Linked DNA regions of Homo sapiens: region 2 is linked to region 1. The links come from fine-mapping of genetic effects on gene expression. A gene starts in region 1. The other region holds a variant in brackets. All regions are shown on one strand. Distances are from middle to middle. Region 1 holds the start of CERK (ceramide kinase). Region 2 overlaps CERK (ceramide kinase).

Region 1 (4,382 bases):
ACCTTGCTGACCAAATTAAATGTCCTGTGAGCTGGTTCACATTCTTCTGCCCTACTATGGCCCTACTGACCTCAAGCATAGAAGAATCGAACCTGGGCCTGATTCCTTTTGGGGACTGTAAAGCTATGAGAAAAAAACTAGAGACAGTGTGGCTGTATTCCTGAACTCATTCACAACTTAGCGTTTCCCAACTTGTTGATGTTTTCCCATTGCATGGGAGAGCACTCCTGGGTGGAGAGGGCAGGCTGCTTCCTGGAGGAAGCCCACCAGCCAGGGCCACCAGCCAGGGCCCCACCATCCATGGCCCCACAAACCAGGGCCCTCCCTCTCCAAGAGGGACCAAGCTCCTGGCAGGCCAGTCAGGCAGCTCAGGATGAACCCGCACAAAAGCACCTTGGCTTAGCAAGAGTGAAGCAATTAGCATGCCAAGAGGCAAACCCCAGCAGGCTGGACAAAAGCAGACGCCACACCACACCAAGCCCTGACCTGGGGGACCAGAAACCATAATGGGAGCTGGCTGGGGACGCCAAGGCAGAAAGCAGTGATGACTGACCTCCCACACAGATGCCCTGTAAGGGTCTGGCGTCTCTGCGGCGGCTGGAGCCTGAGGGAAGCCTTACAGCCCAGTGGCTACAAGCACAGCAGCTAATTGGGCCAGTCACTTCCAGCCCCTGCAGATCGGCCCCTGCATCCCTAGGACGGGAGCAGCTGCCTCTCAGGAACCCATCCGGTTTGAAGCCCAGTGGCCCGCACTTAGGAAGTGCTTGGGGGAGGCAGTCATCTTCCTGAAGCCTAGGGATTTACAACAAAGTACAAACCCTTCGGGCCCAGGTCAGGCACCTGTTCTCCTTGTGTGTGGGCCCTGGTGGGTGATATTTGGGGTGTGACATTTCTACCAAAGGGGACATGAGAAATACCTTAGGAAAGTCAAGTCTCAGATGCCCAGCCACAGATAGGTGACCCCAGGGCTGGAAACCAAGTGTTGGTCATGGGTCTGAGACCACCCCTCGACCTTGGCCCCACCTAACGTTCAACTCTGTCCCCACCAGAACCCAACCCACAGATCCTCACCACTCAGCACCAGAAAGCGCCCAGAAGAACTCCTGACCTCGACTGCCCACAGGGTCTAAAGGTGTCATCCCAGGCTCCGAATATCCACCAGAGAATCTTGGCCTCCGCCACACCCACCCCATTCCAGCTCCGCACATCCAGCATGAATCCTGGCCTCTGCCACACCCACCCCAATAATTAAAAAGAAAAAAGGCTGGGTGCGGTTGCTCACACCTGTAATCCCAGCACTTTGAGAGGCTGAGGTGGGCAGATCACCTGAGGTCAGGAATTCAAGACCAGCCTGGCCAACATGGTGAAACCCTGTCTCTACTAAAATACAAAAATTAGCCGGGCGTAGTAGCGGGCTCCTGTAATCCCAGCTACTCCGAGGCTGAGGCAGGGAGAATTGCTTGAACCCAGGAGGCGGAGGTGCAGTGAGCCAAGATCGTGGCATTGAACTCCAGCCTGGGCAACAGAGCAACACTCCGACTCAAAAAAAAAAAAAAACAAAAAACAAACAAAAAACAACAAAAAACAAAAACAAACCCTCTGTCCTCCTGCAGGGCTCTCTCCAGGGTGGGCTATGCGTCCTCCATGTTTACCAAAGTCACTCTTCTCCTCATCCGGAGGGCCTCTGCGGGGCAAGTAGCCAACCCGTGGCACGGAAACCAATTCCCCCATCCCGAGCAGGGAGCACACCCCACAGAAAGTCAGGGGCCCCTTCTTTAACTTCTTAACAGGAAGTCCTCACCCTGCAAGGGCGCCTCTCAGGTTTCGGATCCCTGCTAAAGAAAAGCATCTGTTCTTGGAGTAAACTGCAATGCGCGCGGTGGGGAGCGCCTGGCACCCCCCCTCGGGATCCATCCACAGTCCGTCTTGTCCAGAGGTGCCCTGCGGACAGACCGCACCGGGGGCCACGACCCCGCGCCCCGGGTCCCACCTCCCCGCGGGGATGGGGCGCCGGCCTCCCCTCCACTGCGCGGCGCTTTGTCCTCGGGTTCCCGGAGCAGACGGCGGCGCACAGCCCGGCCCCTGGCCCCGGCCTCCCTCCCGCCTGCCCCGACCCCTCCCTGGCGCCTGCGCTCCCAGGGCCCCCGGCCTTACCACAGCCGCTCGCTCCCTGCACCCGGTCCCCCCAGCCGGGTCCCCCAAGCCGCCCCCGCTCCCTGGCCAGGTCCGGCCGAACCCGGGCGGCGGCGACACTCACCCGCGCCGGGGGCGCCGGCTCCGGGCCCCGGGCTCCGCCACCAGCGCAGCAGAGCCCGCGCGGGCTCCAGGCTCACGGCGCAGCGCTGCTGCTTCACCCACAGCACGGATTGCAGCGGCTCCGCCGCCCCCGTCGCCCCCATCTCCGCCGCCGGGCTCGTCCGCCAGGCTGGGGGCGCGCGGACGCCGAGGGGCGCCGGACCGTTAGCGGCCCCTGCAGTGGCCCGGGCGGCGGGCGGCGGGCGGCGGGAGGCGGCGCTGCGTCACCCCGTACGCGGGCGGCGGGGACCGCGGAGGGGACGGGCGGGGCGGGGGCGAGGAGGAGGCGTGGGTAGAGGAGGGGCCGGGAGCCAGGGAGAGACGGGGGGACCCGAGAAGGGGAGAAGAGGGAGGAGGAAGGGGCCGGGATGGGGCTGGCCGAGGCCAGGGCGCTGGGGCCGGGAGGCGGCTGCCTTTCTCTCCTCTCTTCTCCGGCGGGTGCCGGGTGCTGAATCTGGCGCTCCCGCGGCCGGCCGGGACTCAGTGGCGCCTTCCGCGCGGGCCTCGGTTCAGGCGGGGTCCGGGCGGCGTGGAAACGCAGTCCTGGCGATCGGGCGCGGCGGGGGGCGGGCCTGGATGGGGGCGCCACGGGCGACGTGACCTTGGGCGGCGGGTGCCCTCTACGATCCTGGCGTCCTGTCGGCCTGGGAGGGGGCCTGCAGCTGGGCCCCGACAGGCAGGTAAGGCTTTCAGGAGGCGGAGGTCTTTTTAGGGGGCGGGGGCGCTGGCCCTTTGAACTGCTCTGGGGCCTGAAGCCACAGAGCAGACAGCTGAGCAGCCGCCCCCGAGCTGGCCCTAGGAACCGGAGCCTGGGCCCCAGACTTGGAGAGACACGGCCCCTGTGGCCCCAATTCACCGCCTCCCCAGGAAGGCCTCCTTGACCCCACAGCTGAAGGAATCACCAGCCTGCAGGGACTCCAGCCCTGCCTTCAGAGCACGCCGTGCGCCTTCATGCAAGCTCCAGTCTCTGCGTCCGCAGTGCTTAACACAGCCCCATAGGAAGCAGCCACAACCTGGTTCGGAGGGCACATCCCTCCCTGATTTATCAGTGAAGACTGTGCTCACAGAGGTTAAGTCACTTGCCCAAGAGCACAGGGCTCCAGTGTGGCAGAGCCTAGGCTCACACTGACACTGCCTGGATGTGACACTGAGGTCTGAGGCCTGCCCCTCCCCTCGGCTCCCCTACCCAGCCCTGCTGCTGCAGGCAGAGGTGAGGTGGGCTAGGTCCACGTGGCCTTGCTGCTGTGCCTGGCACCAGGTGGCAGCATATACAGGTCTTACCCTGCCAGCTCCTTGTGACTGTCTTGTCTATAGGGCGGGAACCAGCCATGAATCATTCCTCCCTGGGAGCCCAGCCCCTGTTCAGGCCATGCAGTGAAGGCCCCAGGACAGTCCTGCAGCCACCGTGGGCCCAGTCAGAGTCCTAGCAGGCAGTACCTGATCGTGGCACACAGTGGGGTGTGCAGCAGCGAGGCCTGCCCAGCCTCCTCCCTCCCTCAGCTGCCGCTCTGAGGCCTGGGAAATGTGGATCTGAAACTTACTTGGAAAGAAAAGCTCATGCCAGTGGCAGGAGGGTGCCGCTGCATGCGAAGAGGGTTGGCAGGCAAGGGTGGCATGGGCAGGGGCCCGAGAGCACCAGCGTCCCTACTGGGGACCCCTTCCCTGGGCCTCCCTGTGCTTAGGCTCCCCGTGCCCCTCCCGGCGTATTCACGTTGCTGTCCCCCGGCTGCACGCCTTGGCTTAAAATCCTGCAGCCAGAGGTGGGGGCCCAGAGACGACTCAGAAGTGCTTAGGCCCCGAAGGAGCTCCGTTGGGGGAGACAGCAACATCAGTTACAAAACACACAGGAGATTCAATGAGGCTGTTAGGGTGGGCCCTCATCCAGCGCGTCCTTACAAGAAGAGGAAATGTTGACCGGGCTCTGTGGCTCACACCTGTAATCCCAGCACTTTGGGAGGCTGAAGCGGGTGGATCACCTGAAGTCAGGCATTGGAGACCATCCTGGTCAACATGGTGAAACCCTGTCTCTACTAAAAATACAAAAATTAGCTGGGTGCAGTGGTGCGCTCCTGAATCCCAGCTACTCC
Region 2 (4,382 bases), 51 kb before region 1:
CTCTAAAGTACAGGTGTTGTATGTCTGCCGCATCTGAAAGGCTGCCCCGGAAATCAGAGCCTATCTAGCGGGAATGTCTGGGCAGTCACCCCCATCCTGCGCGCAGATAGCAAAGGGCTGCTGGCAGGTGTCAGACACACGGTACCGCAACAGCAGTCCCGAGGTCTGAGATTCTGAATGTCAGCAGGTGGCTGGAGAGTATCACCAGAGCCACTCAGGAACCAGCCATGCGGAATGGCTGGGTTTCTTATTGAACATGAAATGCTTCCTCTTTGGCCTGGACTGTTTTGCTAAAATTGTTAGTGGGTTTTGGGGCAGGCCAGTGTATGGGAAACTTTTTTTTTTGTTGGGGGGGGCGATGGAGTCTCCCTCTGTTTGCCCAGGCTGGAGTGCAGTGGCGCAATCTTGGCTCACCGCAACCTCCACCTCTTTCTTGGGTTCAAGCGATTCTCCTGCCTCAGCATCCCTAGTAGCTGAGATTACAGGCGTGCGCCAACAAGACTGGCTAAGTTGTGTATTTTTAGTAGAGACGAGGTTTCACCATGTTGGGCAGGCTGATCTCAAACTCCTGACCTTAGGTGATCCACCCGCCTCGGCCTCCCAAAGTGCTGGGATTACAGGCGTGAGCCACCGCGCCCAGCCGGGAAACATTTACCAGGGACAATAAAGGCTTAGAAGAACCTTTTGGGGAAACTTTGTGAGGAGCACAATTCCAGAGGGCCCACAGCAGCCACAGCCTCCTGGCGTGACACCAGGCACACTGCCGGCTGCACAGGTTGCTGGGCACAGGCAGGCACAGCCAGTCTGGAAGAGCAGCCCGTCTTAAATCTTTGGTTTCTTTCCAACCAGGAGCAAACATTGGTAGAAAGAGCCAGGGCATATTTACTCTTTACACCCAGAATTTTCATTCATTATTGAACCATTTGGCTTGCACAGTGCTCTCTGATAATGTGGTCCATAAAAACCACCATTAAAGCTGCCCTTTCACCTGATCTGGGTGGGGCTAAACGAGGAAACGAGAAGTTTCCTGTATGCTTCAAAATATAAATCAATGCCAGGAAATTCTGAAAATGGATGCTGCCTGTTAAACATGAAATCACTAAGGGAGCTTCTGCAAAACCCACCCGGCAGCATGAGGAACGGTGTCTACAGCGTGCTCCAAACGGCCACGGCCCCGCTCCTTACAGATCAAAGTTTAAGCCGCATATTCTCATATTTCAAACAAAACTACGTTACAGACATCATCTACGTGGGCACGGATACACACTAAACAAGGACGTAGTACACAATTGAGGGGTGCCCCGGGGAGCGCGGCAGGAATGCCTTCCGGGAAGAATCCTCTGGTCGCCGGAGCCCTCGCGCTGCAGAGGAAACCAGCGATCCATCGTGGCTTCGAGGCAAAAGACAGACATCCGAGACGCAGTTTACACTACTCTGGCTTAAAAGGACAAGATGTTCAATAAATATAGAGAACTCAGTGTGAAGAAAAGACAAGGACAAATCTGGACCACGTGTACAGACTTCAGGCCCTGCCTCAGAGGAGTCCTGCGGGAGTCCAGGACCGGCCCCTCCTCCACGGATGGCCAGCTTCCTCCTGACTGCCCCCAAGCCCGGCTGTGTTAAGCACTTCGCGTCGATATAAAGCATTGGTATTTGACATTTTAACAGTAACAAACTTGCCAGTGCTTTACACACTGCCAGCTTCCAGAGCTTATCATC[C/T]GTGCTCCCAGAACAGACGCCAAGGTCATGCTCCCAGCCGGATTGTCGTAGCCTCGCCGCCGTGATGAGGCAGGTGTGGAGGCCCCAGCAGCCTTCCCGGCGCTGGCGTGGAGGCCCCTCCCGCGGATCACCTGAAGCAGGGCCACGTTGCATTGCAGTTGCACAGTATTGTAAGGATCAAGCAGCGATGTCCTAACCGTAAACGAAGAGGAAGGTGAAATGAAGGCAAAGAGAATCAACCACTTCCCAAAACTTGGCCACAAACCGTTACAGAATAAGTCCTGCAAAGTGGATCAAAGTGACCCACTGCTACCTCAGGCCCAGATGGTGTGACCTGCGTGGAAATCATATAATGTCCCTAACATTATTGCAATAGAGCCACTAACGGGCCATTTTCTAAACTACACTGTTGACATCGTTAAAACCTAAGAGGCCAGTGCCCCCAAGTGAGCAGCTGCATCCGCTGAGAGTAAGCGGCGTGGGCTGCAACCCGCAGATGCGTACAGAACTGAAAATGCCAAATATGTACACAAAATTGTTGACAAAAGGGTTTTCTTCTAAAATCAAGATTTAACTATCAAAAATAAATTTCTACATTTAAATGTATATATCAACATAATTGGTCTGTAATAATTATCTTAAATAGTTTTCACACTTTCCCAGTTTGTGAGCAGGACGCCGGCTTCTCAGCTGTGTGAGTCTGGCTTCGGATTCTCTTCAATTCCTCGTGCAAAGAGTCGAACCAGCTGGCAGTGGACTCTGCAGAGACAAGCGGCCACGTGTAAACCCCACGTGTCCCTCACTCAAAGCTGGCCTGAGCCCCACTCCTGGACAGGGGCTGCAGTAAACCCCACGTGTCCCTCACTCAAAGCTGGCCCTGAGCACCGCTCTTGGACAGGGGCTGAAGTGGGGGTCCATCCCCCATGGAACGGTCAGACGTCACCGTGGGCTGTAGGAGTCCAGCCCACAATGACGGGCCCTGGGCGTGGAATAATTCACTTAGACTCCCGGGATGCCGAGTTTGTAAAGGGGTTGCCAATGGCCAGGTGGGAAATCTGGGCATCGGTAGACCTGACTCGAACTCCAGCACCCCCATGGAAAGCAGAGCGTCCGCTCCAGTGTCTGCCCACTCCACCCACCCACCCACCTCCATTTTCTCAGCAGTACTGAGCGCGCAAGGCCTGCGAGGAGTCTGTGCGGGGCGACTCAATGCGTGTAAGAGATGTGTGAGGAATGCTCAGATGAGAAGGACAGGTGGCCCAACGCCAGCAAGAGCCTTCGGGCTTGAGGAACAAGTTGGGGGTCCCTGGAGGTCCCCTGCCCAGGGGCTCGGTGGCCACAGTGAGTCCGTGGGTGAGTGCCATCTTCCCACACAGGACAGCTCTATTTATCTCATTTATTAATGATATCACAGCCTCCTCAGACGTATTTCAGTAACCTAAACCCCTTCATTAAGTGACAGGCTGGGGCAGGGCACAGTGACTCACGCCTATAATCCCAGCACTTTGGGAGGTCCAGGCGGGCGGATCACCTGAGGTCAGGAGTTTGAGACCAGCCTGGCCAACATGGTGAAACCCCGTCTCTACTAAAAATATAAAAATTAGCCAGGTGTGGTGGCGGGCGCCTGCTACTTGGGAGGCTGAGGCAGGAGAATTGCTTGAACCTGGGAGGCAGAGGTTGCAGTGAGCCGAGACCTCGCCATTGCACTCCAGCCTGGGCAACAAGAGCAAAACTCTGTCTCAAAAAATAAAAAAATAGAAATAAATAAGTGACAGGCTGTTTCCATGGAGCTGAGCTCACACACACACAAATTATATTTTTAAAAGCGACGTGCTGCTCAAGGCATAGCCATATTTATCAAGATAGACAGGACGTATTTCAAGAATGCCTGTCCTGATTTTCAAATTATTCTATTTCTTTAATAAATACATACACCAATATTAAAAATAATCCCACTTCCCAAACTTGTCAAATGAGTTGACAGAGGAAAGTCCCTGTGCACGGCTGCCTGGGGTGGCCGGTGTTCCTGGGACCTTTCGACAGCCTCTTGCCATCACCACCGCCCTGACAGAAAGAAAGGGGGCGCGTGGCCCTGGGCCTGGGGAGGGGCAGAGACCTCCTCCCTTAGGCTTGTTCGGATGCGAATGGGAGAAGCTTTCTTAGAGCCGCAGCTGGCTGGCTGAGGAGTCACTGAAAGTGGGGCGCTGTCCACAGAGATGCGTGCATCCTCTTACATGCTGTGACTTAAGGCACCCAAGGGCCATCTGACACCCAGCTTTCGTTGCAGACAGGCGTGGGCCTGCTGACCAGCCTGCTATCGCTCTCACGCCAGCCACACTCTGTTAACGAGCGTCAAGCTGGGCTTCCTTGAAGTAGACCGAGCTCTTACCAACATCTGCCAAGAGTTCAGAATCCACCTGAGCTCTACCGTTCCCCAGTCTCATGTAATTTGCACGCCCACACCTAATTCAGTGGCCTTTTGAAAAAATCAACTTGCTTGTTACTGGGTCTTTCCATGGAGAAACAATTTTCTTTGCACTCAGATTCCATCTGGTTATGTGATACATCACAGACTTCCAAATACAATGGGCCCCAGTGGGTGTGGGGAGGACACCACTTCCCACCCTCCGCCCAGCCAGCCAGAGGAGGGGTGTGGCACCTGC

The links. PIP is the estimated chance that this variant, and not a neighbour inherited with it, causes the effect.
Region 2: its variant is fine-mapped to the expression of CERK in whole blood (TOPMed, PIP above 0.99).

Annotation. Positions count from the first base shown.
Region 1 is chr22:46,735,750-46,740,131 of GRCh38, forward strand. It overlaps CERK (ceramide kinase), which reads right to left and starts at 2,503. Exons shown (of 13, transcript NM_022766.6): 1 at 2,258-2,503. The coding sequence starts at 2,399. LOC105373077 (a long non-coding RNA gene) reads right to left here and starts at 643. Exons shown (of 2, transcript XR_001755593.2): 1 at 554-643. RefSeq lists enhancers at 315-888, 1,576-1,745, 2,984-3,642, 3,016-3,345 and a silencer at 1,896-2,855.
Region 2 is chr22:46,684,729-46,689,110 of GRCh38, forward strand. CERK (ceramide kinase) reads right to left here. Exons shown (of 13, transcript NM_022766.6): 13 at 1-2,478. The coding sequence ends at 2,406. Among named protein-coding and RNA genes, the nearest start is that of CERK, 51 kb to the right of the region's middle. RefSeq lists a silencer at 1,584-1,878. The variant C/T (reference allele first, on the strand shown) is at 1,720.